Regions from separate parts of the Homo sapiens genome. Here region 1 is linked to region 2. Evidence: fine-mapped expression QTL. A gene starts in region 2. The other region holds a variant in brackets. All regions are shown on one strand. Distances are from middle to middle.

Region 1 (15,256 bases), 110 kb before region 2:
TATCAGACACTGTGAGCTCTCAAAGGCGACTGGATCAAACAGTAAAGTGTCTTTGTACTGTTGAAAATCCTTACTTTAAAATAAATATTCTATTAATTTACTTTTGACTTTTCCGCAACAATACTCAAGTCGTTTTCTTAAGCAAAATAAGCTGATAGTGTATATAAACATCTCACCACTTGTTAACTGTGTCTTCTTCATCCCGACACTATGTGATTTTTATATACATAAAAATATAATTTTAAATGACAGCTTTGCTTTTGGTCAAAGGGTACACAAATAACTAATCTTTATGTTCAAAGTGTTAATAGGTACTTAAGAAGATGAAAACACCAAAACTTTCAATACTTAGAATACTTATTTATTTTGATCAAGTATATAAGTGGTGAAATTCTAATTCAACCAAATAATTGAGATTTCTCCTCACACCTCTTTGTATACAGCATAATCACATATAATCTCAACTGCAATTTTATTAATGTGCTATTTCCAGCAAATTCTACAAAAATAATACCAGTAACAGCAGTAGAAACTATTTACTGATTGTACAAGCAGTATGCTTGGTACTGTGTTAAAGCACTTTACATACATGATCTCATACAACCCTCAGGAACAACACTAAGACAGGAAGGACTCGTGTAAGAGGTTAAATACCTAAGATCACACAGCTAGTAAAGCAGCAGATTTCCATTTCAAGGATCATGTTCTTTTTTTTTTTTTTTTTTTAGACAGAGTCTTGCTCTGTCGCCCAGGCTGGAGTGCAGTGGCCCGATCTCGGCTCACTGCAAGCTCCGCCTCCCGGGTTCACGCCATTCTCCTGCCTCAGCCTCCCGAATAGCTGGGACTACAGGTGCCTGCCACCGCGCCCGGCTGATTTTTTTTTTTTTTTTTTTTTTGTATTTTTAGTAGAGATGGGGTTTCACCGTGTTAGCCAGGACGGTCTCGATCTCCTGACCTCGTGATTCGGCCTCCCAAAGTGCTGGGATTACAGGCTTGAGCCACCGCGCCCGGCCGAGGATCATGTTCTTAATCATTACACTGTTCTGCTATTATTTCACATATGACAGCTGATTAAAAAAAAAAGTCTAGAGCTGAGCAAAAATGGTCTGTCCCTTTATATTCCCATTCTCTGTTCTTCATCCTTTGCCAGGCCTCCAGGCTTCATACCATTTTCACACACTGGAGGGGCACCTGATATTAGGAACAATAAAGACAAGAGAAAAGAGAGTATATCTGATCCCCCAATTATTTTCCCTTCTTTCCAGTTGTTGTTTAATGGTGACAAGAACCATTGCAAAACATACACATTACTGCTTATCTCTTGCTTCTTTGGGCCCTGAGGCACAAATGCAAACAGCAGGCAGGTGGCACTTAGAAATTATAAAATTTGCTTCTTTTTAAAGAACAACTGCTAATTTTTAATAGATAAAAGTAGAACTGCATTTACCCATCCTACTGTTTGGTCACCTACCATTTTGTCATGAGAAGGTAAAACCAGTTCATCCAGACTATTTGGATAAATTTTCTATTTTTTACTGTTTAACTAGGAAATTTCACTATGAGATTAACATAGCCTTAAAAAGTAGAAAAAAAATTCCTATTGACAGACATTTCTAAGGCATCTCCAAGAATTTCAATGTATCATTTAGACATTAATCCCAGAAGGCAGATGATGTATATTAAATACTAAAATGGGATAGAAAACCCACTACCACCAAATTTTACAGTAATAAAATTGTTTGCTGCTCCTATGATGATTCTTTAATGCTCTGTAAGACAATGTCCTCTGTCTGCTATGCCACCTAAACAAATCCTTGGCAAATGGATCCAAGGACAACTTCTCCTAAAGAGGACATGCTGAAGATTTTTTGTCTGTTCATAATCAGTATCCATGACCAAGCCTCAAAAAAGCAAAACAGTTCTTGTGTATACAACATAATGGAGTTGATGCTATGTTGCAATAAATGCCTTATTACTGGGAAAAGATCAGGGAAACGGTTTAGGGGCCTATGTTCCTAGGGTCACACCACCATGAGGGAGGGCCAACACAGCCCCAAAAGTAACCACAAAAACTGACTGCCTGGGCCTGATACAATGCAAAATGTTGTCTGAGCCTAGAAATTAATGAACAAAGAAAACTAGCCCAATGTTTCACATTTGCTTAACATTTAAAATTTGTTTTAAAAATGTGTTTAAAATTTTATTCCCTTATCAGGGATCTGTTTGTCTTCTGAAAAGGTTAATGAAAAAAAAATAACTACAATCTTCTTCCTAACAGATTCATGCAAGAGAGGGAAGAGAATGACTCCTATATACTTCAGAGAGAAAGCTAATAACTGAGCAAAAAAAAGACAAGTAAACTTGATTTTTACAAAAGTAAAGTTTTAATCAAAGGTCATAAGCAAAACCTCTAATTTAGAGTACAATTATACCTCTGTATCTGTGGGGAATTGGCTCCAGGACTCTCTGCAGACACCAAAATCCACAGATGCTCAAGTCCCTTTTATAAAATGGCATACTGTTTGCATATAAAATATGCACATCCTCCTGCATACTTTAAGTAATCTCTAGATTACTTATGATACCTAATACAATTTAAATGCTATGTAAATAGTTGTTATGCTGTATTGTTTAAGAAAAAAATAACTCACACAAAAGTCTATACATGTTCAGCACAGGCGTTCTGGGTTTGGTTTTTTTGTTTTTTGTTTTTAATATTTTCGATCGGCAGTTGGTTAAATCTACGGATGTGGAACCCACGGATATGAAGTGCCAACTGTGTCTGTATGTCTGTAAGTCATGTACACTTAATATGAACTAAAACCTAAGTTATCTTCTATCATCACCTTTGCCACTTCTTTCTCTTGCTATTGCCCATATCCATTTAACCCAAAGACTTACTTGGATCCCTACTGGAATCCATCTACTTTTCTTCATCTTGCCCCTATTTAAAACAGCATCACTCATTTTTTAACTACTGCAATACCTTTATAGCCAGTTTCCTCATATCCACATAATCTGTTGCCAATATTACAGCCATAATGTTACTTTCAAAACACAAAGCTAGGCATGCCATCCCACTGCTTCAATGGCTTCTCAAGGTACTATATACCAAAATCCCTAAAACCCTTGGCCAGCTACAAGGCCCATAAATGATTCTCTTCCTTGCTAAAGCTAATCCCTCTACCCAATCTTTTGATCCCATTCATACCTTCTATCTCACTGTAAATTATTCTCTCTCCCTCGAGACTTATTTAAAAGAAAAAAACAAAAAATTCCTGGATAAGGAATAGTGAATTACAACTTGACTCAATGAAACAGTCTCACTCTTTTCGTTTAAAGCATTTTCATTTCATTTAAAGGAAAATGTTTTACAGTATCAAATCAAGTTTTCTCTATAGTGAGAAAGGGTAGTAGTGACATGGAGAGAAGGAATTCCAGAGATGTCAGCAAGTAAGGTCTACAGGCCTTCATGATGGCTGGATACTAGAGATGAGAGAGGAGTAAGTGACAAGGATGATGCCTAGAACACTGGCCTGAACACTGACAGTGCCATTTACTGAGAAAGAAAACACTGTATAAAGAATCTGATTCGCCAGGAACAATGTAATAAAGAATCACCAAGCAATGTATGAAAGGATTGTCAAGTGGCACTTGAGGGCCTATATATTACAAAGCATCATTAACAGTAATAATGAATTACAATTACCACTCTACACCCATATGAAAGTATGGAAAATAACTAAAAATATAATGTATAACATAGGCTTCAGATTCATTTGAAAATACTTTTCAAGCAACATTTACATGCAAAATACTCTGTTCTCAGTACTGGAGATATAGTGGAAGGCAAGAAAGACATAGTTTCTACCTTCAAATTCATATATTTAAAGAAAGATTATCAAAGGAAACAAATGAACAACAAGATAACTAGAAGAAAAAGGGTCCTGAAAAAGTTGCTGATGAACTGAGATCTGAATTATGAGAAGGAATCAGTCTTATTAAGAGCAAGAGGAAGAATGTTCCAGACAAACAACTGGAAGGAGAAAGGCTAAGAGGTAAAGAACTTGTCAAGTTGTTGAAAAACTTAGAAAAAGCCACCGAGAAGACTTGTAGCCAAGACCTTTCTTAATATGTACTGCCCCTTTAGAGCATGGAATTGTGGATAGAATTCAGAAGAAACGTAATGGGAAAAAAATTTACAATTTTATTTTCATTAATCTCTTAATGAAATTAAGACTTTCTTCAGGAATGCAGATAAACCACAGTATTATTATTATAAATGGTTACAACTTTGTCACCAACAAAAATCAGATTTTTTCATAACATATTAGAATAAAGATATCCCAAAATTACATATGCTCATTAGACTTCTAAAATCTGGTATTTATCAAATTTGCCACTAGATCATGTTACATAATGCATTAGTAAAGAAGCACAAATCATGTCATAAATGTGTTTTTAAAAAATATCTTGATTTTACTTTAAATACAATTGGTTTTATCTTATGTATTTTCTTTTATGCCTTAAAAATATATTCAGAAAGAGGATTCACAGGATTTCCAGTCTGCCAAATGCACCAATGGCACAAAAAAATTATGAACTACAGCAAAAGATACTTGAGATTCCTAACAACTAAACGCAATTTATGGTGCTTGTTTGGGTCTTATTTCCAACAAACGAATTACAAAAAGACAATTTTCAGGAAATCGAAACTGTAAAATGAACTGTGTGTTAGGATTACATCAATATTATTTATTTTGTTGTATACAATGGCACTGTGGCTATGTAAAAGATGTCCATATGTTTAAGAGAGGCAAAGTGTGCAGGAACAAAATCACAGTGTTTAGATTTTGCATTTAAATACTTTAGAAAAAAAAGGAAGAGGTGGAACAGATAAGGAGAGCCTTTAAAAATGGTAATTATACAATCTGTGTGATGGGAAGATGGAAGATCACGTGCTATTTTCTCTCATTATATTTACGTTAGAAATGTTTTATAATTAAGTAATTAAGAAAACCAAGAAAAAGAAATAGAATAAGGCATACCCTTTTAACAGCTGCTTCACAATAAGGAGCCTCTCTAAAGGAAAAAGATCACAAAAAAGCACAACCTGCAGAGAGCAAACCAGAGAACAAGACTCCTTTCTCTAGGCTTATGTTGCCCTAGGCCAGGTTGCCTGACTTGATGAGTGTGCAATGTAACCAGGGATTTTCCTCTTTTCTCCACCACTGTGCTCAGGAAGACTGCAAGAATCCCTAAAACTTGCTATAGTATTCATATTTTTTGACTATGTACTCTATCTTAAGGCACTCATGCACTCATTTCAAAGAAAAAATAAACCTAAATCCATTATGTCAGTTGTCTGGGCCTAGAAAATTAAGTCTTTGATCAAACTGGTACATCTTGGTATTAGATACAGCAATGGTTTAGGAACAATAATCTTATAGTCTTAAGTTACCAAGTAACAATCAAGTTTAGGCCTTCTATTTAGGTGGACCTGACAATTCAGAACACAGGATGGCAAAAGGAAGAGGGAAAAAGGATGCAGTGCCAGGTAACTGTAGTCTTCACAACTGATAGAAAGCAAAACGTCTGAATGGAAGAGTGATGGAATGCTTGACTTAGGCAAGTGGGCCATACAAGATGGTTCCCGGGTTGTCAAAAAAATGACAAGAACTGAAAGAGAACTCTTCATTTATGTTAACTGGGATGAACTATCCATCTCTCGGATCTTAGCATATTTAAGGTAGGAACACATAAAAGGCTCTATAACCTGCAGGAAGGTTGGCTCACTAATTCTCTCTTCTTCCCTAATCTATTTATACTGTCCTGCTCTCCTAATCTGTCATCAAACTCAGCAGTCTCTCACCAATCAACTGCTTATCTTTCCACTGCAAATCAATACAAAAAAAAGAAACCTCATAACTTTATCATATGCTGTTATAAATCAGTTGGATATCTTAGCATAAATATTACTCATTTTAAGTAATTTTCTTAAAAAAAAAAAAAAAAAAGGTACCAAAAATCAGCCAGGCGCAGTGGCTCACGCCTGTAATCCCAACACTTTGGGAGGCCGAGGTGGGTGAATCACTTGAGGTCAGACATTTGAGACCAACCTAGCCAACACGGTGAAACCCCATCCAAACTAAAAATACAAATATTAGCCAGGTGTGGTGGCGCACACCTGTAGTCCCAGCTACTGGGTAGGCTGACGCAGGAAAATCACTTGAATCCAGGAGACAGAGGTTGCAGTGAGCTGAGATGCCACTGCACTCCAGCCTGGGCGACAGAGAAAGACTCTGTCTCAAAACAAACAAAAATCAACTCTGTTTAACATTAAGCAACCAAAAATTCATAAAATTTTTATTCTTCCAACACTAACAAATACATCTTTTTTTCATTTATTAAAAAATATTGATTGAGTGTGGTGGTATGCAGAACAATGGTTCTCCAAAGATTTCCATTCGCCCTAGCCCCCAGAACCTGTGAATATTTTAACATTACATGGCAAAGTTACTTTGCAGATAACTTTAAAATAGGGAGATTTTCCTGATTGGCCCAGTATAATCACATGGACCCTTAAGAGGAAGGGAGAAGAGTTAGAGAGAAACACAGCAGAAGAGAAGAAGAACAAGGGAGAGTCAAAGCATGAGAGGGACTGTATCCACCAATGCTGACTTTCAAGATGAAGGAGGCCATGAACCAAGTGGCCTCCTGAAGGTTGAACTAGCCCTCAGTTTACATCCAGCAAACAATCAGGGACCTCAGTCTTAAAATCACAAGGAACTGAATTCAATCAACAACCCGAAGGAACTTGGAAGTGGGTCCTTCCCCTAAGTTTCCCAAAAGGAACACATTGCTGTTGACACCTTGACTTCAGTCTATGAGACTCTAAGTGGAGGCCTCTCCCTAAGCCACGATATACCTGAACCTTGGATTTACAGAACTGTAAGAGAATGTTTTAAGCTGCCAAACTTCTAGTAATTTATTACTGTGACAATAGAAAATGAACAGAGGTATCTACTTTGTCCCAAGAACTCTGCCAGGTACTGGGAATATCGCTGGGACCTAGACAGATTGATACCCTGATAGCTGGGACACAGACTCAACCATGTGCAGTGTTCAGCAGAGGCTAATTCTTTCTTGATCCTGTTTGCCAATAGTTCCTAAAGCAATTTGCTTGCCAGTGTGTGCCTCAGTCTCCACAGTTGAAAGACAGCAGTTATCACACAGGGCTTTTCTCTGGAGGGGTAAACACTTGTGAGTTATCCATATAGTCCTTGGATAACCTGTGCAGACTTAACTGCCTCCTGATGCTGAAATGCATCTCCCACAAAATGTGGCTGTGCCCCCTTTGCTCACAGATGTGTTTTAGAAAGATGTTGCCTCCAGTTCAGGGTGTAGCACTTACTTGATGGGATAATTAGACATCAAAAGTAACTCAACAAAAGCAAAAGATGACAAATAGGATCTAAGCAAAAGAGATTCTGCACAGCAAAAGAAACTATCAACAGAGTAAAAAGAAAACCAACAAAATATGGGAAAATTTTTGCAAACTATGCATCCAACAAAGGTCAAATATCCAGCATCTATATGGAACTTAAACAAATAAACAACAACAACAACAAAAATCATTAAAAAGTAGGCAAAGGGCATGATCACTTTTCCAAAGAAGACATACATCACCAACAATCATATGAAAACAAGCTCAACATCACTAATCATTAGAGAAATGGAAATCAAAACCACAGTAAAGATACCATCTCACGCCAGTCAGAACGGCTATCAAAAAACAAGATGCTGGCAAAGTTGTGTAGAAAAAGGTAGGCTTACACATTGTTGATGAAAGTGTAAATTAATTCAACTATTGTGAAAGAAACTGTGGTGATTCCTCAAAGACCTAAAGAGAGAAATACCACTGAACCCAGCAATCTCATTACTGGTTATATACTCAAAGGAATATAAATCATTCTATTATAAAGACACATGCATGCGTATATTCACTGCAGCACTAGTCAAAGTAGCAAAGACATGGAATCAACCTAAATACCCATCAATGATAGACTGGATAAAGAAAATGTTACATATACACCATGGAATACTATGCAGTGATAAAAAAGAATGAGATCATATCCTTTGCAGGGACATGGATGGAGCTAGAGACCATTATCCTTAGCAAACTAACACAGGAAAAAAAAACAAATACCACATGTTCTCACGTATAAGTGGCAGCTAAATGATGATAATACACAGATACATAGAGGGGAATCACACATACTGGGGCCTGTCGGAGGGTGGAGAGCAGAGAGAGAGGATCAGAAAAAATAACTAATGGGTATTAGGCTTAATACCTGGGTGATGAAATAATCTGTACAACAAACCCCCATGACACAAGTTTACATGTGTAACAAACCTGCACATGTACCCCTGAACTTAAAAGTTAAAAAAAAAAGAAATAAAATTACAAAAGGGATCACACTAAGAAAAAATATTTGTCAGGATTTTATTTTCAAAAACTCATTTGGAAATACATCTTACAGCATTGCCTCTTATTGCTTTATAAAATCCAAATTCATCATTAACAAGTTTCATTTAATATTCTTGCATCTCATAAGATAAACAGGAAAGTAATTTTATCTACAGTACATAGGCATCAGCCATTATGCAACTGCCTCCATTCTTACAAATTTATTTTTTATTTTTTTTTGAGACAGAGTCTTGCTATGTCGCCCAGGCTGGGGTGCAGTGATGTGATCTTGGCTCACTGTGACCTCTGGTTCCTGGGCTCAAGTGATCCTCCTACCTCAGCCTCTTTAGCAGCTGGGATCATAGGCATGTGCCACCACGCCCAGCTAATTTTTGTATTTTTAGTAGAGACAGGATTTCACCATGTTGGCCAGGCTGGTCTCGAACTCCTGGCCTCAAGTGATACACCGGCCTTGGCCTCCCCAAGTGCTAGGATTACAGGTGTGAGCCACCATACCCAGCATCATTCTCACAAATTTAATGTTAAAGTTCATATTTTTACTTAATGCATATGCCAGGTATGGGTGTGTTTAAATAGCATCCTTCTTAAAATTCATCTAAACATCAATTTCTAAAGACATAAAATGAGACAAGTACTAATTACTTGAATTAGAAATAAACAGTTGCCTCCATATCCACTGATAAAAATTTAAGTCAAGAGTAAGCAAAATACAGCAGTGAGCCAAATCCAGGCTGCTACTTGTTTTTGTATGGCACACAGGCCAAGACTGGTTTTTACACTTTAAATGGTTGAAAAAAAAATCTAGATAATCAAAAGTATTATTTAAAATGTAAAAATTACACGAAATTCAAATTGTAGCATCTATAAAGATTTACTGTAATGCAACCAAACTCATTCATTTACCTATTGTCGATGACTGCCTTTAAAACAGCAGAGGTCAGCCAGACGCTGTGGCTCAC[G/A]CGTGTAATCCCAGCACTTTGGGAGGCTGAGGCGGGTGGATCACCTGACGTCAGGTGTTTTGAGACCAGCCTGGCCAACTTGGTGAAACCCCGTCTCTACTAAAAATACAAAAATTAGCCAGCCATGGTGGCAGGCGCCTGTAATCCCAGCTACTCAGGAGGCTGGGCCAGAGAACTGCTTGAACCCGGGAAATGGAGGGTGCAGTGAGGCAAGATTGCGCTACTGCATTCCATCTGGGTGACAGAGAGAGACTCTGTCTCAAAAAAAAAAAAAGGCAGAGTTAAACATGGACAACAGAAACCTTATGTGGTACTCTCAGGTTTAGTTAGCACTGCCAGTTGGCACAATACAAATCACAAAAAATGCAATTATATTGCTTTACCTTACTTTAATCCTCCAAAAAGCATGTAACACTAAATTTTGTTTGTCCTCCCTCCTATTTATATCCCCAGGGCCTACAATACTGCCTAGCATACAGCAGGCACACAGCAAACATTTCCTGGATGAATGCAAAACACAGCATTTTGTGTGCCAAGCATTTTGTCACATAAGGACATCTGAATTTTATTTTTTTAATTACTGGTACCTACACCACATTAAAACAAAAAGAGGCTGGTACCTACTCATCACATTAAAACAAAAAGAGGCCAGGCACAGTGGCTCACACCTGTAATCCCAGCACTCAGAGGTGGAGGCGGGCAGATCACTTGAGGTCAGGAGTTTGGGACCAGCCTGGCCAACATGGTGAAACCCTGTCTCTATTAAAAATACAAAAATTAGCCAGTCGTGGTGGCAGGCATCTGTAATCCCAGCTACTCAGGAGGCTGAGGCAGGAGAACTGCTTGAACCCGGGAGGCAGAGGTTGCAGTAAGCCAAGATTGCACCACTGTACTGAAGACTGGGCAACAGAGTGAGATTCCATCTCAAAAAAACAACAAAAAAACACAAGAAAAGTAGTATGCTCTTTAATGTACAATAAAATCAGATGGCAAAGCACTGTTTACCATCTAATGCAATGACACTACAACTGTGCTAAAAGAATACAATATAAATATTACCAGACTAAGCCCTCATTGCAACATTCCCAACTCAGATGAAAGGAATGGTCAGAAAACACAAAATTTCTTTACAAAAATTAAAAAATTAAAATTAGGCTGTGAAGCAAATTTGAGAGGTTCCTTGTTAGCCAGGGAAGGAAAATGGTTAATCTATGGTTAATTAATTAAATTTGATTTGATTAAAGCAGTCAAAAATGTATTCAGAGGAAATAAATTTGTTTTAGACTATTAGCCTTTCACTACTGCTTAATGAGTTGAGGTCATGGTGTAGCAACATCAATTGTCAATCAGAAGTCAAGGCAAATGACTGAGTGGTTTTCTTTGGCGCTTGTTAACATGTTACTAATACCACTCAGTTATGGTTTATTCGAGGAGTCCAAATCATGTTTTGAAGTGGCTGAGGAATTAGCCTCTATGAGTAGCCTACATAAAAAAACTACAGGCAGGAGTAATTTCAAAGTAGTTCAGAAAACACTAATGAAGTACAACCTGAAGGGGAATCTATTAAGATGCTGATGCTACCAAACAAATGGTAGTTAAAACTATGTGTGGAGCTGAAAACAGCTCAGATGGGCAAATTTAGTCCATCTAAGAATTCTACTACACTATTTTCTTGATTATTTGCAGATTTATCACTGCCAAAGGAGGGTTATGTGGAAGTTCCCCAATTACATAGTTAATGAATTTTGAAATAATACATAAAATCTCATTATAAACCAGCATTGATGAATTTGCAATCAATTTTGGTCATAGAGAACACTAACTTGGAACTTCAATTAAGCAAAATGTTCCCTCACACCCAAAAAGAAATTCCATTATTCTCATTATCAAATCAGTATTGCACATTATTATCATGCATTGTACTTGTCATTAAAAATTTGTGACCAGCCTGACCAACACGGAGAAACCCCGTCTCTGCTAAAAATACAAAATAGCCGGGCGTGGTGGCGCATAACTGTAATCCCAGCTACTCGGGAAGGCTGAGGCAGGACAATCGCTTGAACCTGGTATGCAGAGGTTGTGGTGAGCCAAGATAGCTCCACTGTACTCCAGGGGCAACAAGAGCAAAACTCGGTCTCAAAAAAAAAAAAAAAGAAAAAAAGTGTGAAAATTTGATTTATCTCTTGTTACATAAGCACCTACATAATTTCCGTGGTTTTGTCTATCGGCCTGTAAGCCTAAAGTACTTAGTTTCTGGCCCTTTAAAGAAGAGGTTTGTCAATCCCCAACTTAAATCATTACATTTAAACCATTTTAAATCACTGTAGACTAAAAAATGTAAGGCAATAATGAAAACACACTTAAGGCTGGGCGCAGTGGCTCACACCTGTAATCTCTGCACTTTGAGAAGCCAAAGCAGGAGGATCGTTAGAGACCAGCCCGGGCAACACAGTGAACCGTGTCTCTACAAAATATACCAAAATTAGCTGGGCATTGCAGTGCATGCCTGTGGTCCCAGCTGAGGTGGGAGCAGTGATTGAGCCCAGGAAATAAAGGCTGCAATGAGCTCTAACTGTACAACTACATTCCAGCCTGGGTGACAGAGCAAGACCCTGTTTCCAAAAAGAAAGAAAGAAAAAAAAATGCACTTAAACTATACAAACTCCTGCTATATTACTTACTTTTGCTCATACCTGACTCTTCATTTTTATATTATCATTAAAAATAATTTCACATTAAAGTTTCTAAGAGTTCAGCTTAGATAACAAACACTGGTTTTGGAAACTAGGTTTTATGACTAACTTGATAATTGTTTTTTAACAAAGTCAACCTAAAATTACAAGGCATAACAGAACTTACATGTAAAACTCATAGTGAAAGGATGGCTGGCTTATTTTTATGGGCAAACACCAAATATCAATACAGTGTAAGTAAATAAGGGCACATATAAAAATGGTAGGTTGTTCCTTACAGACCAAATGTTAGCATGCTCAGCTTAAGTGTACCAGTGGAGACCTCAACCACATTTTGATCAATTTTATGCATATGTGGGAGGGAGAGAGAGATACGAATGCATGTGCATGCATCCATGTGTGAAAGAGAGAAAAAGACTAATTATTTTCTTCTATTACTGAAAATGGTTCTGGTAATTTCACTAAATACATTTTATGTAAATACAATCAAATGAGTAAAATGTAAACAAAACTTTTACACAATCCACCAATTATGAAAAATATTTCATGCTTTGCATTTATGCTGTATGTATCTTCACGTCTTTCAAATATGTCACAGCAGAATTTTTTAATGTGTCCATCCTGAGACTGTGTAAAACGTTCATCCCAACATATAATTATTACTTATCTACTGATACATAAAGTCTTCTTTATACTTCTCTATTTGTACTTTACAATGATACTACTTTATTTGCACTTTAACCATATTTGATTTTTTACTCATATTGACTGCATTCTGAATCTTAAGTACTTTTATACAATGCTAAGAAACACTTAAATTGTAATGTCTTTGCAGCACTGAAATTACTAATTGGGAGGGTGAGGTTTAAGGAGCCTCATTAATTTGACTATCAACCTGTAATAAGTGAAAGGTAGAGAAAGTGATTTCCATGCTGAGGAAAGTGGCATACACCTGCAATCTCAGGTACTTAAGGCAGGAGGATGGCTTGAGCCCAGAGTTCAAGTCCAACCTGGGCAACGTAGTGAGACCTCATCTCTTTAAAAAGAAAGAAAGATTTCCAAAACCCAGCAGGAAATCCCTGCTCTTCTCTCCCCTTCCAAATCAACAAAGCTAAATGTGACTAATCCTAAATTTACAGCTCAAACGTGCAGAAAGGTCAGTCTATCGCTCCTCACCTCTCCTGTGATAAATCAGATCCTTTGGATATCTACATTATAAATCCCAAATTCAAAAGAGCTAGTTCCCTCACCAACACTTTTTAACAAATCAAATAGAATGGAATGAAACACAGTCCTAAAGTTGACTCAGTAATCTATACATCTAAAGAAATAACACATCATATCCATCTGGCAAGGGATTAGTCAGACACAACAAGGAATAGAAATCACAATGGCAAATCAAAACCTATCTAAGCAGTGCCCAAGGGGAAAGGTACCCTGGACTTGCAACAAGTCCTTTTTTTTAATGAAGAGTTAAAAATAACAGACTACTTTAATACCACTAAACATTTGAAGGATATAATTTATTATATGCTCATTGCACAGTACACTGTGATTTCCAATGTAGCTTTACACAGAGAACATGTTATGTGCTAGAGGTGAGAATCCAGTGCCCTTGTTAATTACATTTATCACTGCAAATTAATAAATCAGCATTTGATTTCAAATGCTACTCTCATAAGCTTAATTAAAATGAATCAGTTTCTCATGGTATACTAACATTACTTAGTTTCTCAGCCTTTCTCTGGGCTACAGCAAATTACTAACATAATGCCACCCTATGAGACAACTCAGGATTCAGGCAGCTGATCAACCATAGGCAACAAAACCTCCACACTGCTGTTCATCACCAGCAGTTATTTCTCCTTTGATCTGTTACACAGAAAATATGTTGACTGAAATTATTCAGTCACTTAGAACCAGTTACTATGTACTATGGACTAGTCTTCGATGATCTACAAGAGGTTTCTAATATAAAATGTAAATGTAATACTGCCAGTATGACACAATGAAGCATAGTTTTGTAAAATCTACTATACTGGGCTGGGCATGGTGGCTCATGCTTGCAATCCCAGCACTTTGGGAGGCCACCGATCACTTGAGGTCAGGAGTTCAAGGCCAGCCTGGCCAACATGGCGAAACCCCATCTACTAAAAAGTACAAAAATTAGCTGGGTGTGGTGGCGGGCACCTGTAATACCAGCTACTCAGAAGACTGAGGCAGGAGAACAGCTTGAACCTGGGAAGCGGAGGTTGCAGTTGATCCAGATCACGCCACTGCACTCCAGCCTGGGTGACAAGAGTGAGACTCCATCTCAAAAAACAAAAAAATCTACTATACTATAGCCTTTTTACACTGATGTTTAAAGCTTTAAAAGTTATACAAACTTTTCAAAAATATTAATGATGACTCAGAAAGTTAGAAATAATACAAATGTCTATCACAGGTGCCCCAAAATTGGTACCTATCAATTTATTAGAAAGTATTAGATGATTTATGTCTACTGCAGTTAACCTAGGTAAAGAAAAATATTTTCCAATATCAAGTTATTTAAATAGTTACGTTCTTGAAGTTTCTTCTTAAAGTAACTTCTTTTTTTGGGGGGCGGGCAGGGTCTCATTCTGTTGCCCACGCTGGAGTGTGGTGGCGCAATCATGGCTCACTACAGCCTTGACCTCCTGGGCTTAATCAATCTACCTGCCTCAGCCTCCTGAGTACCTGAGACTACAGGCACATACCACTACGCTCGGCTAATTTTTGAATATTTTTGTAGAGGCGGGATTTTGCCAAATTGCCCAAGCTGGTCTCGAACTTCTGGGCTCAAGGAATCCACCCGCCTCAGCCTCCCAAAGTGCAGGGATTACAGGCATGAGCCACTGCGCCCAGCCTGTTAACTTTTCTAGGAGGGGGAAAAAAAAAATATACACACACACCCACACACACACACACACACACACACAACCCCACAAAGTTCTTGATGAATTATAATGTACCTACAAATTTACTATCAGAATAATTGGTAATTATTCTGTCACTCTAAAACTCAGTAATTCCTAAGGATATTGTGAAATACCTTGTGTAGCTAGATAAGTTACTAAAATATTATAATCCTA
Region 2 (14,676 bases):
GATTATACTGAGACCAAGTTTGAATATCTGATGAGTAACTGGCAAAGCTGGAACTCAAAAGCAGTTCCTTCTAGTGACTGTACCCATATCCAAGGCTTATTGCAACTTTTAGTCTTGCCCCTGCTACTTACACAGTCCAGAATCACTTGGGTGAGCATTCCAGTTAGGACGGTGGCATTTTAAGATTCAGAATATTAACCTATAAACCTGTCATTTGATTCTTGATTATTAATGTCTGGATCGCCTGTGGTAGGGGTGTAATCCCAGGAAGGCATTAAATATATTTGAATTAATGTATATTTTGAGAATAAAAGGCTATTTCTAGAAAATATTACACACTTGTCTTATGTTAAATAAAAATTTGCTATTTATTGAATATCCCTTACCCACCCTTCTTCCCAATGAAGATCTTATGCTTACCTTCACTGGAAGGTTTAAGATGTGACAATCTTAATAGATCTTTGTGAGACCAGCCATTTCTCTGTTTATATTTTGTAACTGCCAGAGCAAGGGCCATGCCACCTTTCTCATTGTACCAGTCCGCTATAGCCTTCCGGAGGGCACGACCCCACATGCCACATTTCATGCTTTCCTTCAGATCTTTCTTAAACTGGATAAAAGTAAAGAGATGGGTAGGAATGCGACAAACTTCAGAAACAGCTTTAAATGCTGCTTGTTTTGTGCTTATGTCGGAGCACTGGGAACAAATGGCAAGTGCAAAGAGCATAGGCTCTTGCTTTGTGGTTCTGCCTTCTTGACTAAATGACTTTATTTCTTGTATCACTTCACATCCTCTGCCATCTTCAATCAATCTAATTAAAGCTTCAGCATTTTCAAGGCCCAACTTCTGTTCTTTGATATAATAAGTCCCACCTTCAGAACCGAAACATAAGAACCGGTGTAGTCGATTCATGTCAGTGACTTGCCATACATATCCATCCTGAGAATTGGCTATCTGCTTCTCATTCAGTGGCTGCATTTGGTTTACAGATTCCTCCATTTTTTTTTGTCTTTAGGAAACCTAACAAAAAGGCAAAATGTTATTACAACTAGATGGGCACAATAAAATTACAAAAGGAAAACAAAATGTAGGTTTACTGAAATGTTATTAACTCTTTTAATTTAAAAACATCTTTTAAGTTCCATAGTTTTTCCCTTAGTACAAAATCAATATAAATGTCCTGAAGAAAAATCAGGAAAGGCAGAAAATGAAAGAAAAAAACCATATCTGAATACTTTGAAATGACTACCAGTAATATCTTCAGTTTTTAAAGTGTTTTTGTTTTGTATTCCTATTTTTATAATCTAAAGAAACTAAAAGCCCTTCACAGCAAACAAACAAATCATAGCCACAGTGGTGTGATAATCAGAAGCAACTAAGGCGTCACATTTTTGAGATACAGTGTGCTCCTTCAGAGATTAAGCAGGTAGATCAGTATGGCATCTTGAGGCCCACACAGAGAATAAAAGAAGGGAGGGCAGCAATAGTAGCTGGCACTAAGTAAGAAAGATCATACTCCCTGAAGAATTGTGTAAACATGTTTGGTTGCCTATCTAACATTCATTCTTCCCCCTTCTCTCTTCTCCTCTTCTTGGCCTCATATCCTTCAAAGGAGGCTAGGCCTTTCCCTAGCCCCAAGGGATGGATCTTTATTGCTCTAAGCCAGTGGTTCTCAAACTCAATGTACATCAAAATTACTTGAATTACTAATTGAAACATAGATTGGTGGGTCAGCCCTCTCAGGCACTGCCCTGAGTTTCTTTCATAATTTAGTAGGTCTGCAGTGAGGCCTAAGCATGTATACTTATCACAAGTTCCCAGCTGCTGCTGCTGCTTGACCCAGGCCCAATAATCATGGTGCTCTCCTTGCCACATGACTGGTATAGGGAGTTGGGCATGTGTCATGACTGGCCAGTATGACATGATAAGTCAGCTGAGAACACTTTTGAGGTTTTCTTCAGTCTTAAAAGGGGGCTCAGGCTCTTAAAAAGAAATGTTCCCTTTTCTGCCTTCTGACATTTTCATTTGCAAGTGATGCCTGGAGTGGTAACAACCATCTTCAGACCTTGAGATAAGCCAGTTTAAGATGGCACACCAATATATAAAGAGAGCAGAACAGAAAAAACAAAGAACCTGGGTCCTTGATATCGGGTTACCTGAAACTGCCCTGCTTATACACTTCCTATTATGTCATAAATGTATCCTTATTGTTTAAGCCATTTTTAGGTTTACGGTTTTATGTCATCTGTAACTACCCTCACTCTACTCCTTCCATTAGCTCTAAAACTCCTAGAACTAGCTGTCTGGAAACAACATCCCTCTTTATCCTTCTAATGGAGGAACCACAATTGTCACTTCTTCATCAGTCCACCACTATTGTTACTACAGTATCACTGTTTATTGAGGTCCTTCAATCTGTCATGTTATTTCGGTGCACTGGGCTTCTGTCCATGGCTAACAAAACAGCACAACCAACAAAAACTTAAACCAGCATTTACTGAATACATACTATGTGTAAGACATGAAGACAATTTCTCTCCCATTAAAGAGACTAAAAAAAAAAAATTTGGGCCGGGCACAGTGGCTCACGCCTGTAATCCCAGCACTTTGGGAGGCCGAGACGGGCGGATCACGAGGTCAGATCAAGACCATTCTGACTAAAATGGTGAAACCCCGTCTCTACTAAAAATACAAAAAATTAGCCGGGCGTGTTGGCAGGCGCTGTAGTCCCAGCTACTCAGGAGGGAGGCTGAGGCAGGAGAATGGCGTGAACCCGGGAGGCGGAGCTTGCAGTGAGCCAAGATCCTGCCACTGCACTCCAGCCTGGGGGACAGAGCGAGACTCTGTCTCAAAAAAAAAAAAAAAAAAAGAAAGAAAAAAAATTTTTTTTTCTCCTCATCACAGGAAAATCACACTCATTTGTGGGGATAGAATCACAATGCAAACTGTAGTTAAGTGCTGTAGTAGAAAAGTATTATGAGTGAGCAAGGGAGTATAAAATAATATTGTCTCAATAATCCAGAAAGATTTGTGCAGAGAAGGCAAATTGTGATTAAGTGCTGTAGTGGAAAAGTGAGTGAGCAAGGAAGTATAAAATAATACTGTCTAAATAATCCAGAAGGATTTGAGCAGAGAAGGCAAACTAAAAAACTGATAAAGTTTAGGGAAGGCGCTCCAGGAAGAGGTTTCTGAAATCTCGATCTGTCTTTATATTCTAGAAAAGAAACTGTCTAAGCATCCTGTAGAGCCATAAAGACATGTTGACAGATACGGTCATAACTTAAAGAGGAACACAAGATAAAAGAAGTTTTGTTCTGAAGATCATGCTTACTTGAACATGTTTATATATTACAAGGAAGGCTAAGGATAGAATCTTGGTGAATATTAACCATTAAAAGCTAATGAGAGAAAGGCCTTTTAAAGAGAGACGGAAAAGGAGGTGCACAGAGTTGAAGAAAACCGACAGAGAATAGTATCATGGACTACAAGGAAGAGAACTTCAAGGAGTGAATGGTTGGTAATTTCAAATGGTCAGAGGAAAAGTAAATAAAAGGCTAGAAAATGACCACTGGGTTTAGCAAGTAGGAGTGACTAGTGAGAGCAACTGCAGTAGAGTGGTATAAGAAGTAGCTTGATTACAGTGAGATCAGGAGAATATGCAGTGAGGAAGAAACTTCACAGCTAGACTACTCTTTTGTAGACACATACTTATAAACTATGAAGGAAAGTAAAAGAGGATGGGACTTAGAGAAAAAATCTTTTTACCTTTTTCAATGGGAAGATGCTAACATTGAAAGATTCAATTTGGAGAGCTGAAGATACAGTAGAGAAGGGGGATAACTGAAGGAATTTCTTAAAGAAATGAGAATGAGCTTAGAGCATCCAGGTTGAGACTGGCCTACTGACAGCAAGAGATATTTCCTTTATCTTTTAAGGGTAAAGAGTATAGGTAAAGATAGATTTGAAGGAATGAGGGATAAGGAAACTGAAGACATTCCCCCCTGACAGGAGATGTAGAATGCCAAATGGTATGTGGAGAAGTTTGGTAGAGAGGGGAGGAATGAAAGACTGGGTCTCAGAGAGGGGAACACATAGTGGTGTAGGGATAAGTGCATGGGAGAATGAAGAGCCTCACATTTTGAATGTGACTGAGGGGGACAGTGATCTGAATTGTGTTCGGAATATTAGTGTCAATATTCCAAATAAGACGCTAGTATAAATTTGCTTATGTTAGTGGAAGCCTAGGTCTCAGGTGGCATCAGAGATGTAATGATCATATTAGTCATTAGGGACAAATTCATAGTTACTGAATACAGCATAGGTTGAAACTCCTGTTGCAGTGGATGCCTGTTCTCCTATTTATTATTATCCTCTTTTCAAATTTGGCTTTTATCTCTACCTTTCGATCCAAAACACTTTAAGAAGACTAACATGCTTCTCAAAGACTGATACCTTAATTGCCAATTCCAGTAGACAATGTTATGTTTTTCTGATCTTTACATTACATAGACTTTGCTAGTCTCTCCCTCAGCTTTCATAAAAACAGGCTCTGGTTGCACTTCAACCTGTCTACTTCTGCTTATTAGTTTTATTTGTTAGATGAGTAACACTGAAATGACATCTAATATCAGATAATTCTACTAAACTTGCTTTCCTGCACCAAGGCCCAAGTGGTGGGATTTAAAAGGTCCCAAACCAAACCTCAAAATTCCCTCTCCCCTCAAATTCTTTTCCTTGTATTATTCATTGTGACCACATGTAGCTACATTATTGGTTCCCTTGAAAGTAGAAACCAAATCTTATCATTTTTGTCTCCTCTTTTGTATTGCTTTTATGTAATTAGCAATACATACTTAAAGCCAAATATCATTAAAGTTGACTTTCTGAACCATTTGCCAAATAATTATGCACAATTGGTTTCTCTTTCCCATAACACATTTTGAGAATAAAAGCCTCAATATTTATAATGCAAAATATAATACAAGTCTTTAAGATAAATTCTGTAATCAGAATGATAAATGTACTATATGCAGGTAGTGAAAAATATAATCAAGAAAAAATAAAGTTCTAAAGAAAAGTAATGAATACTGAGTAAAAATGTCATCTAAGAACAAAATTTCTGTTTTTCTAACATATTTAATATTAGGTATTCAGGTACTTCTCTAGAGCAAGCAGCAAAATGAACTTTTAAATCTATGAAGGATGTCTAAGAGGTAATCTCTAAGTATAATCCTTATAATCCCTATTAGAAGAAATAAAGTTACTTATTCATGGACTCTTCCTTTTGCATGTTATGATATAAATGACAACCCTGAGGACATACCCTTTCAGTATTTCTGCAGCAGAAACTGCTCAGGTTTTCCTATGCTTCTGTGACTGTACTTTCCAGAGTGCAACATAAAACAGTGGAACAGATAACATTATTAGCAGCCAGGGCACCTTCCTACTTGATTATATAAATTTACCAGGGTCATATTCATATTTTAAAAGACAGAAAACAGAATAACATGTCCCAAGTTACTCTCCTTCTTGTCACTGAGTGTGATACACACATAAACTCAAAATTCGGCAAAGTGATGTGATACTGTGGCATCTTATAAGAGAGAGTACCTGGTCTTTGGACATAATACCCAGCAGAAAGTTTCAAAAACCCGTGGTATTTCCTGAGAAATAGGAGTGTCTTTGTTACATTAATGAGGCAACATGGGCCCCTAGGTAGCTTCAGGATGGGGGCTAATCACTAGAAAGACCAACTATATGTTTAGAGGAATAAACTGGTCAGGCCAACCTTCCATGAAAGGAGGAGGACTTGAGATCAAGTTCAGCCATGTAGCTAATGATTTAATCAATCATGCCCATGTGATGAAACCTCATAAAAACTTTCTTCATCGATACTCAGTGGAGCATCCTTGGTGAACAAAAACTGATGTGCTGGGAAGGTGATGTGCCCACATTTCACAAGGATGGGCATGGAAGTTCTGCATCCTTCCCTTGCCCCAGACCTTGCCATATGTGTCTACTTCCTGTTTGGCTGTTCCTGAGTTGTATCCCACATTTCACAAGGATGGCATGGAAGTTCTGCATCCTTCCCTTGCCCCAGACCTTGCCATATGTGTCTACTTCTTGTTTGGCTGTTCCTGAGTTGTATCCCTTATAATAAAACTGTAATTGCAAGTAGAGCACTTTCAGTGAGTTATGTGAGTCATTCTAGTGAACTATCAGCCTTGAGGGGATTATGGGAAGTCTTGAATTTGTAGTCCGCAGGGCAGAAGTGTGAGTAGCCTGGGGACCCCATTTACAGCTGGTGTCCAAATTAATGGCATTCTTAGTGGGGACCTTGTCCTTTAATTTGTGGGATCTGATGCCAACCCTGGGCAGCTAGTGCCAGAACTAAACGGAAGTGGGGGACACCCAGCTGATGCTACAGAATTAGTGTTGGAACGCAGACACCAAAGGCAAAAGTGACAAAATAAAAAAATAAACTGGACTTTATCAAAATTTAAAACTTGTATTTCCAAGGACACCATCAAGAAAGTGAAAAGACAACCCAAGAAAAAGGAAAATATTTGCAAATCATACATACAATAAGTGACTTGTATCTAGAATATATTAAGAACACTTACAACTTAATAATAAAATGATAAATAACCCAAGTAAAAATAGGCAAAAGATGTGAATATTACTCCAAAGACACACAAATGGGTAAAGAATCTGAAAAGGTGTTTTTCCAAAGAAGATTATCAAATGGCCAGTAAACACATAAAAAGATGACGAACATCATTAGTCATCAGGGAAATGCAAATCAAAACCACAATAAGATACCACTTCACATCCACTAGGACAGCTATAATCAAAACAATAATATTAAGTGTTGGTGAGGATTTAGAGAAAATGAAACGCTCATATACTGCTGGTGGGAATGTAAAATCATACAGCCACTTTGGAAAACAGTCTGGCAGTTTCTCAAAAGGTTAAATATAGTTAGCATATGACCGAGGAATTCTACCACACACCTAAGAAAAATGAATACATGTATCTAAACCAAAAGTTGTATCCAGATGTTTTTATCAACATTACTCATAACGGTCAAAAAGGAGAAGCAACCCAAATGTCCATCAACTGATGAAGGGATGAAAAAAATATGGTATATCCATACAATGGACTATTATTAGACAATAAAAAGGGATGAAGTAGTGATACATGACACAATGTAAACAAACCTTGAAAACATTATGCCAAGTCAAAGAAGCCAGTCACAAAAGGCCACATATTGTATTACAATTCCATTTATATGAATTTTCCAGAGTAGGTAAATTCATAGAAATAAAAAGTACATTAGTCTAAGGTTGTCAGAGGCTGTCGGAGTGGGGGAACACTGGGAAGTGACTGCTAATGGGTAGGGGATTTCTTTTTGGGTGATGAAAATGTTCAGAAATTAGTGGTGATGACTGCACAACTCCGTGAATATACTAGAACCCAATGCACTGGATACTTCAAAATAGTGAACTTCATGATATGTGAATTATATTCTAAAAATCTATTATTAAAAATACAAACATAAACTAGCCAGGTAAAATATATTTGGAAAGTTATTTAAATAAACAAGCACTTAACTCTGCTATTATCTATATCAGAATGGAGAGCACCAATACAATTGATTACACAAAAATTATATTTAGCCCTACAATTTTTATATTTGACTTTTAAAAGCAATTTGAGATACCCACAAGACATATACAGCAACTTAATTTCTTCTTTCTCCAACTGCCATCATCTCCTGCCTCAAAGCTTAAGCTCCATTATCAGTGGTTTAGAAGGCAATTGGGCAGTGAGTGAGGTCAGAACCTGGTCATCAGTTAATCCATTCCTGGATAATCAAGTGTTGTAAATCCAGATTAACAACAAAAAGATATAGTTAATTCTTTGGATGGGCCTGACCTATCTATCTAGTGCTCTTAAAACACACCATACAACTAATGTTGTATTAAATCTCTATAAATTAAGTTCTTGAGAAGTTAAATATTACAATACTATAATATTAAAAGCATGGACACTTTTTTTTTTTTTTTTGAGACAGACTCTCACTCTGTCACCCAGGCTGGAGTGTAGTGGCGCGATCTCCACTCACTGTAACCTCCGCCCTCCGAGTTCAAGCGATTCTCCTGCCTCAGCCTCCTGAGTAGCTGGGATTACAGGCGCCTGCCACCGCACCCGGCTAATTTTTTGTATGTTTAGTAGAGACGGGGTTTCACCATGTTGGCCAGGCTGGTCTTGAACTCCTGACCTCGTGATCCACCCGCCTGGGCCTCCCAAAGTGCTGGGATTACAGGCGTGAGCCACGGTGCCCGGCCAAGCATGGCCGCATATTAAATTGGTTGTGGATATTTTATACAATGTCCATTTCTCTACTTTTAAATTTAATTTAGAATGCAAAATCAGGAAATGCTAGTAACACACATTATATAATAGCACTTGTTTCACAATCATCAGAACTACAGCATATACAGTATCTTTTATCAGTACTAATGTGTTATTTCCAAGGAATCCTACATTTTTCTTGAATTTACACATCTCAATATCTTCCAAAGTCTCTTTATAATTTATTTGAAAATGCTGCCTTTCATCTCAAGAAGTCAAACACATTTGCAGATTATTCCTTTTTAAATGAAGTCAAAGCTGACATATCTATGAGAGTGCATGACAAATGTAAAGAAACAACAATAGAAAATTGGGCCCATGATAGAGGTTTGTTTACCCATGATACAGGTATCTGAATCCACTGATCAATGTGATGCTATAAAAACTGATGAGGAAGGAACTGTGGCAAAAATGACAGCATGCTAGTCTGAGGGGAGCTGCCAACTGGTTGCCACGTGGTATGGAACTAGTAGTTGCCAGATCTCATTTTTCTCAAAGACCCAGAAATCTGGCTTTTTATGTAAACTCTCAGGATTAAACGTTAACATAATGAAAGGCATCTTAACCCCCTTCTCTGCTTACTTCTAGATTGTGCCAAAGGCTAAATTTTCAGTTTGGTCTTTCTACAATAGGTACCATGTTAATTAAGTTGGGTATCAAGTACATTTTAGTTTTGATGTATTTTGCACAGAAAACATTTTCAAGTTCATAGCAATATTACAGATTAAAAAAAATACCACAAACTACTTTGGGCTCTGATGCCAATCATTCTGGACTCTGTGCCTCTTAAACTTTTCCAATAAAGTATCTCAAGGAAATATACTGTACAGAATCCTCCTAGTCTCCAAGTTGAGGGCAGAGTTTCCGGAGATAAACTTCAAGAAAGTTACAAAAAAAATTTTTTTTAAACCAACACTTCATACAAATTTTGGCTTCTACCCCATAGCGTACTCAGGCTCCTTTTAATACAAAAGCTGCTCTGTTGCTTCCCTCAATAAAATTTACCACGTTTATTTCATGGCTTCACATAATCTGTAGCACAAGGCTCCCTAACTCCAGGGCACAAGTCACCTATTTGAGAAGGAAGGAGTCAGAGTTTTACCCACTAAAACATTTTTTTTTTCTGGAAGCCAAAGGTCTTTCTTGGAATATGTAGCTTTTAAGGAGTAAATATACACTTAACGACTTCAATATACTCTTAAAAACTTTAATCTTAACACTATAGTATTCTATAAGAGCCTGCTGAATGAGGGCAATTTAGTAAATATTTAGTAAATATTTGGTTTAACTCATCATCCAGTTTTAGAACCATTCCAAATGTTTTTAGATTAATACACGACATTTGTTTTCAACCTAATTTTCCCTTGACGCACCGCATCCCCTTCCACTAGTCTAGCAGCCCCATGGACAAACCTTTCTCCTCTCCCTCGTTATTCCTCTGTGATAAATTCACCCTGTCTTCCCACAAAGATCCTTCTTCCAAAACCCAGATCCCGGGCGACGCCTCTCCGCGCAGAAGCCGCGGGAGAAGGAGGAGAAAGAGGAGGAGTAAAGCAGGCCCTCTCGACGTCGGCCTGTGGGGAGCGATGCCGACAAGCAGGAGCGGTCCCGGCTTCGGAAAGGGCCCACCCTGAGGAATGGTCCGGCCGGGCCTAGCGAGGATGTCCCTACCGCGATGCTGGTTCCGTTACCCAGGGTGGACAGGCGCGGAAGCGGGACGGGGAAGAGCGATAGTTTCGCGGCGTTTGCCCAGCCTCAACCCCTGGGATGCGGGTGAGAGACATGGAGGACTGGTCAGAATTTGCGCGTCCCTGGGGCCGCACAAAAGGCTCCCAGCCGGCCTCCCGCAATGTCCTCACCTGTACCTGGCAGCCGACCCCCTGGATCCGCAGCGCCGCCAGGAGAAGTCCTGCGCAGCGCTGGGAAACGACAAAAGAAGGCAGCCTGACGGGCAGCGACAGCCACAGCAACAGCAACAGCCCCACTGCCGCCGGGGATTCCAGGTTCGGTTCCCGGGAACGAGTCCTGCCCCTCTTCTTTTGCCCCGCCTCCGCCCCAGAGGGGCGAGGATCCCGGATGTTGCCTCCTCGGCGCTGTGAATCACCGCCCTTTCTTCTCAGGCCCCAGCCCTTCCGAATCCGCTACGGGTGCTGCAAGGCCTGGGAAGAGTTTCGATGTCTCTAGGGTGGCTAGAGCGTCCTCCCGCGCTCAGTCGCGCTGCAGGTGACGGCGCCCGGAGGCTGTCGGGAAGTAGGCGGGGTGACGTGTGGTTGACGAGCTCGGCGGCGGGTTTGCTGAGATCTGTGGCCGGCGGCAGCTGGTGCGGGGGGCAGCTGAGAGCGAGAGGTGGATCGGGGCGGTGTGTGGCCAGGGCCATGACGGGCAATGCCGGGGAGTGGTGCCTCATGGAAAGCGACCCCGGGGTCTTCACCGAGCTCATTAAAGGATTCGGTGAGAACCAAGGGGACCGTCCTGGGCCTGGGGTCACGGGAGGAGGCCCAAGCTGGGCATGGAGTGGTTCCCTGCGGCCACCGCCGCCCCGCGTCTGGAGAGGTGACTTCAGGAACCTGGAGTCCGGGTGGGGGAAATGTAGATGTTCTGCCCTCTCCTCAGCTCGAGACAGTCGCGTTTCCACAGTAATTTGTAGAGCCACACCACGAGGGCAAGGATCGTGTCAGTCTTGTGCCTGCTGCATCCTCAGGACCTGGCACCCAAATCCTGTAATTGACTTGAGGGCCCTCGCTCCCCAAGCTCTTAAGCACGTATTGCCCTTTGCACTGCCCCTTCTCTGCGGCGCGCACCTTATCCCGGGCTGGTGAGGTCAAGTGCATTGCTCAGGCCATTAGTCCTGCAGAAGCCACCCTAGGGTGCGCCTTCTCAAGGGTGAGGTGTCTGCGGCTCAAGCCGCCCAGGAACTCGAGATTCTGGTTATTCAAAGCAGAACGCCTTGAATGTGTGAATAGCTCTTCGGGACGTCCACACACGCTGACTGCGTGGGCCTGAAAGGCCACTTCACTGGTTCCGCTCTCTGCTCATTTCTGGCTTCCGGTGAAGTGAGTTTTCTTGAGCTAGTGTTCTAGACTAGAGGCCACATGCTTTCCTCACAGTTTCTCTCTGGCTGTATTTAGTGCCTTTCGTCCTAAATAATCAACACATTTTACTTTTTATCCTTCCCTATTTATCTTGTTCTTAGTCTCTTCTTTGGACAGTACGTTTTTATCTATTTCCCAAGTGTTATTGACTCTACGATGTTAAAACTTTTACGCGGGATTAACAATTAAACGTTGATGTAGATATTGCCTGTTGTACACAGCTTAATATTTGGAATGTCATTTATCAAGCATATGTTGTTCATCTTCTATATCTCAGGCACAGTGGTAAGGATTGGGAAATTTTCTTTTTTTTGTTTGAGACAGAGTCTCGCTCTGTCGCCCAGGCTGGAGTGCAGTGGCGCGATCTTGGCCCACTGCAACCTCCATCTCTCGGGGTCAAGCGAATCTCCTACTTCAGCCTCCCGAGTAGCTGGGATTACAGGCACGCGCCACCATGCCCGGCTAATTTTTTTTTTTTTAGTAGAGACAGGGTTTCACCATGCTGGCCAGGCTGGTCTCAGCTCCTGACCTCGTGATCCACCCGCCTCGGCCTCCCAAAGTGTTGGGATTACAGGCGTGAGCCACGCGCCCACCCAAGGATTGGGAAATTTTCATGTGAATAAACCATAACTGCTGTTTCGAATAATTGACAGTCAAACTATAATATGGTGTGTTAATTGCTATGTTAGAGTATATACAAAATGTTAAAAGTACACAGGTCATGGAGGAGCACAGCCAGAAGGAAAAGCATAAACAGTAGTGATGTTAAAGTATATGGGTTAGCCAACAGCTAGCAAAGTGACTAGAACATAATATAGCAGACTGGAGGAATATTTATTTGGATCTGAAACTGAAAAGATAAACTGAGGACAGATTGTATGCCATGTTGTATAGTTTGAATTGCCCTGTAGTGACTGGGGATTTACCTATCAAATATATTTTAATGCTGAAATGACATTATTTTCATAATTAAGGTTTATTGTGCTTTTAAGTGTGCAGGGCAGGTTGGAATAAAGTGAGAGAAGCTAGACATCTCTTAAAATGGTTGGAGTCCGAGATGATTGGCTAAACTAGTGGGTTAGGAAGGAGGAGTTAGATTCAATAAGTTTGCTATATTTAAATCAACAGTTGCATGTGGTAATGTCTGCTCTTCATTCCTTTGGGAGCAGAAATACATCCATAACACGCTAAATTAAAAAAGGAGTTCTCAGGGCTGCCAACCTTACAGTAGAGGTTGAGTGGTAGTATATTACTCCTACATAAGAGAAAAAAAATCAAAAGGACTGCTTACTAAAAGTTGGGGAAAAAAAGAGGCAAAAATAACTCCCTGGTTTCTAGCCTGGGTGGCTGGTGAAACACTCTTACAAGTGAAGAGCAGGCTTGATGGACAAGAAAATGGATTCAGATTTGGACAGACACTGAGTTTGACATGTCTGCAGATTTAGTCATATATTTTACGTTCAAAACCTTAACAATATGTTAAAGTTAACTTTCAGAAATGTTGTACTAGGTAAGTTTGTTTTTACTCCTTCAATTTCATATGTGCAGAAAACTTGGAGATCATGCATGAAAGAATGATATATAAATTCATCTTCTGTACATGCACATATGAAAAATCAGCAGCTATTAATAAATTGGCTTCATTAGCAGAAGAACCTGCAAACAATTAAATGGTGGTAGTTTATGTCACCATCAGATGCTTCAAAGAGAAAATCAGTTTATTCCAATTATTTCCATCATTTTCATTTTTTCACCCAATTTATAGATTTAAAAAAGCTTTTGGCTGTTGATTCTTTCAAAAATGAAATACCTGTATTGTGAATGCTGTCATAAATTCATTTCAAAAGTTCCATCATTGAAAGGGAAATGAATTGTAGATGCAGTAAGTATGTAAATACAGATTTTGGTAGAATGTAGTATCATTAAATTAAGAAACTGGTGGAGCAGAACTGTACTTTTAATTGGTATGGTCCACACATAATACATATGTGTGCCAAAACAAACCGTGATGGTCTGTTAATAAAAACAGAAGCTGTAAATATTTGGTTACAGCCAAGATAGAGTAATGGGGACTAGATTCATTTTTCTTACAACAAACCAGTGACCCCAGCTTTCATTTTAATAAGAAAGTAGAAAACCTAGAGTAAGCAGATGACAGGAAATAATAAAGATCAGAGTTGAAATTAGTGGAACAGAAAAGAGAAAAAAATGGAGAAAATACATGAAACTAAGAGCTGTTTTTTGGGGAAGATCAATAGAATCACTCTAGCCAGACTGATCAGAAAAAAAGAGATGTTCCTGTATTTCAGTATAGGAATGAGAGAGGTGACATCACTAAAATTTTACAGATATTAAAAATAATATTATGAACAACTATGCCAATAAATTTGACAATTTAGATGAAATGTACAAATTCCTTTAAAGACACAAATTACCAAAGTTCACTTAAGAAATAGATAACCAGTATATGCCCTGTGTTTATTAAAGAAATGGAAATTGTAGTTTAAAATTTTCCCACAAAGAAATTCTAGCCAAGGTGGCTTCACTGGTAAATTCTATCAAATATTTAATATTATAAATAATACCAATTCTACATAAACTCTTCCAAAATAATTGGAGAGGAAGGAATGCTTCCCAACTCATTTTCTGAGGACCAGCATTATCCTGACACCAAACCAGACAAAGATATTACTAGAAAAGAAAATTGCAGACCTATATCCATCATTAACTTAAATGTACAAATTTTAAACCATTTTACCAAATTGAATTTAGTAATTCATTAAGTGAACAATACATCATGACTAAGTGGGATTTACCCCAGTAATTTAGGATTGGTTTAACATTTAAAAAATCAATGTAATGCACCATATTAATAAGCCAAAAAATCAAAAACATGATCATGTCAATAGATGCAAAAGGCATTTGACAAAATCTAACATCTGTTAAGAATTATTAAGTGTTAGATTTTATCCTGCTTGCCAGCAAATAAGTTGGCTTGCCAGTTTCATAGATGCTAGCAGACAACTTTTGGTTTAGAGATAAGGGTTGTATTACTTATAGCATAGTAGGCAGCAGGAGATTCATTTTCACATTGGTTGCCTTTTCCTCCAAGTCCATGAGGCTGGAGGTGGGCTCTGGTGGATGCTGCACAAGTAGTGAGGCTGT

Which allele goes with the higher level. Alleles are on the strand shown, and positions count from the first base shown. SD is a standard deviation of normalised expression in the study named.
With allele A in place of G in region 1, the expression in tibial artery of the gene that starts at base 10,443 in region 2 is higher (moderate effect, 0.51 SD a copy in GTEx).

Evidence for each region. PIP is the estimated chance that this variant, and not a neighbour inherited with it, causes the effect. A credible set is the group of variants that fine-mapping cannot tell apart.
Region 1: its variant is the best candidate, but not a certain one, in a credible set for the expression of RO60 in tibial artery (GTEx, PIP 0.62).

Annotation. Positions count from the first base shown.
Region 1 is chr1:193,162,999-193,178,254 of GRCh38, reverse strand. All of the region lies in intron 10 of CDC73 (cell division cycle 73), which reads right to left. Among named protein-coding and RNA genes, the nearest start is that of B3GALT2, 16 kb to the left of the region's middle. The variant G/A (reference allele first, on the strand shown) is at 9,451.
Region 2 is chr1:193,055,379-193,070,054 of GRCh38, reverse strand. It overlaps RO60 (Ro60, Y RNA binding protein), which reads right to left and starts at 10,443. Exons shown (of 9, transcript NM_001173524.2): 1 at 10,279-10,443; 2 at 421-1,021. The coding sequence starts at 1,000. It overlaps UCHL5 (ubiquitin C-terminal hydrolase L5), which reads left to right and starts at 10,695. Exons shown (of 11, transcript NM_001199261.3): 1 at 10,695-10,870. The coding sequence starts at 10,795. It also overlaps SCARNA18B. RefSeq lists enhancers at 9,544-10,276, 10,344-10,873, 10,277-11,009, 11,034-11,343.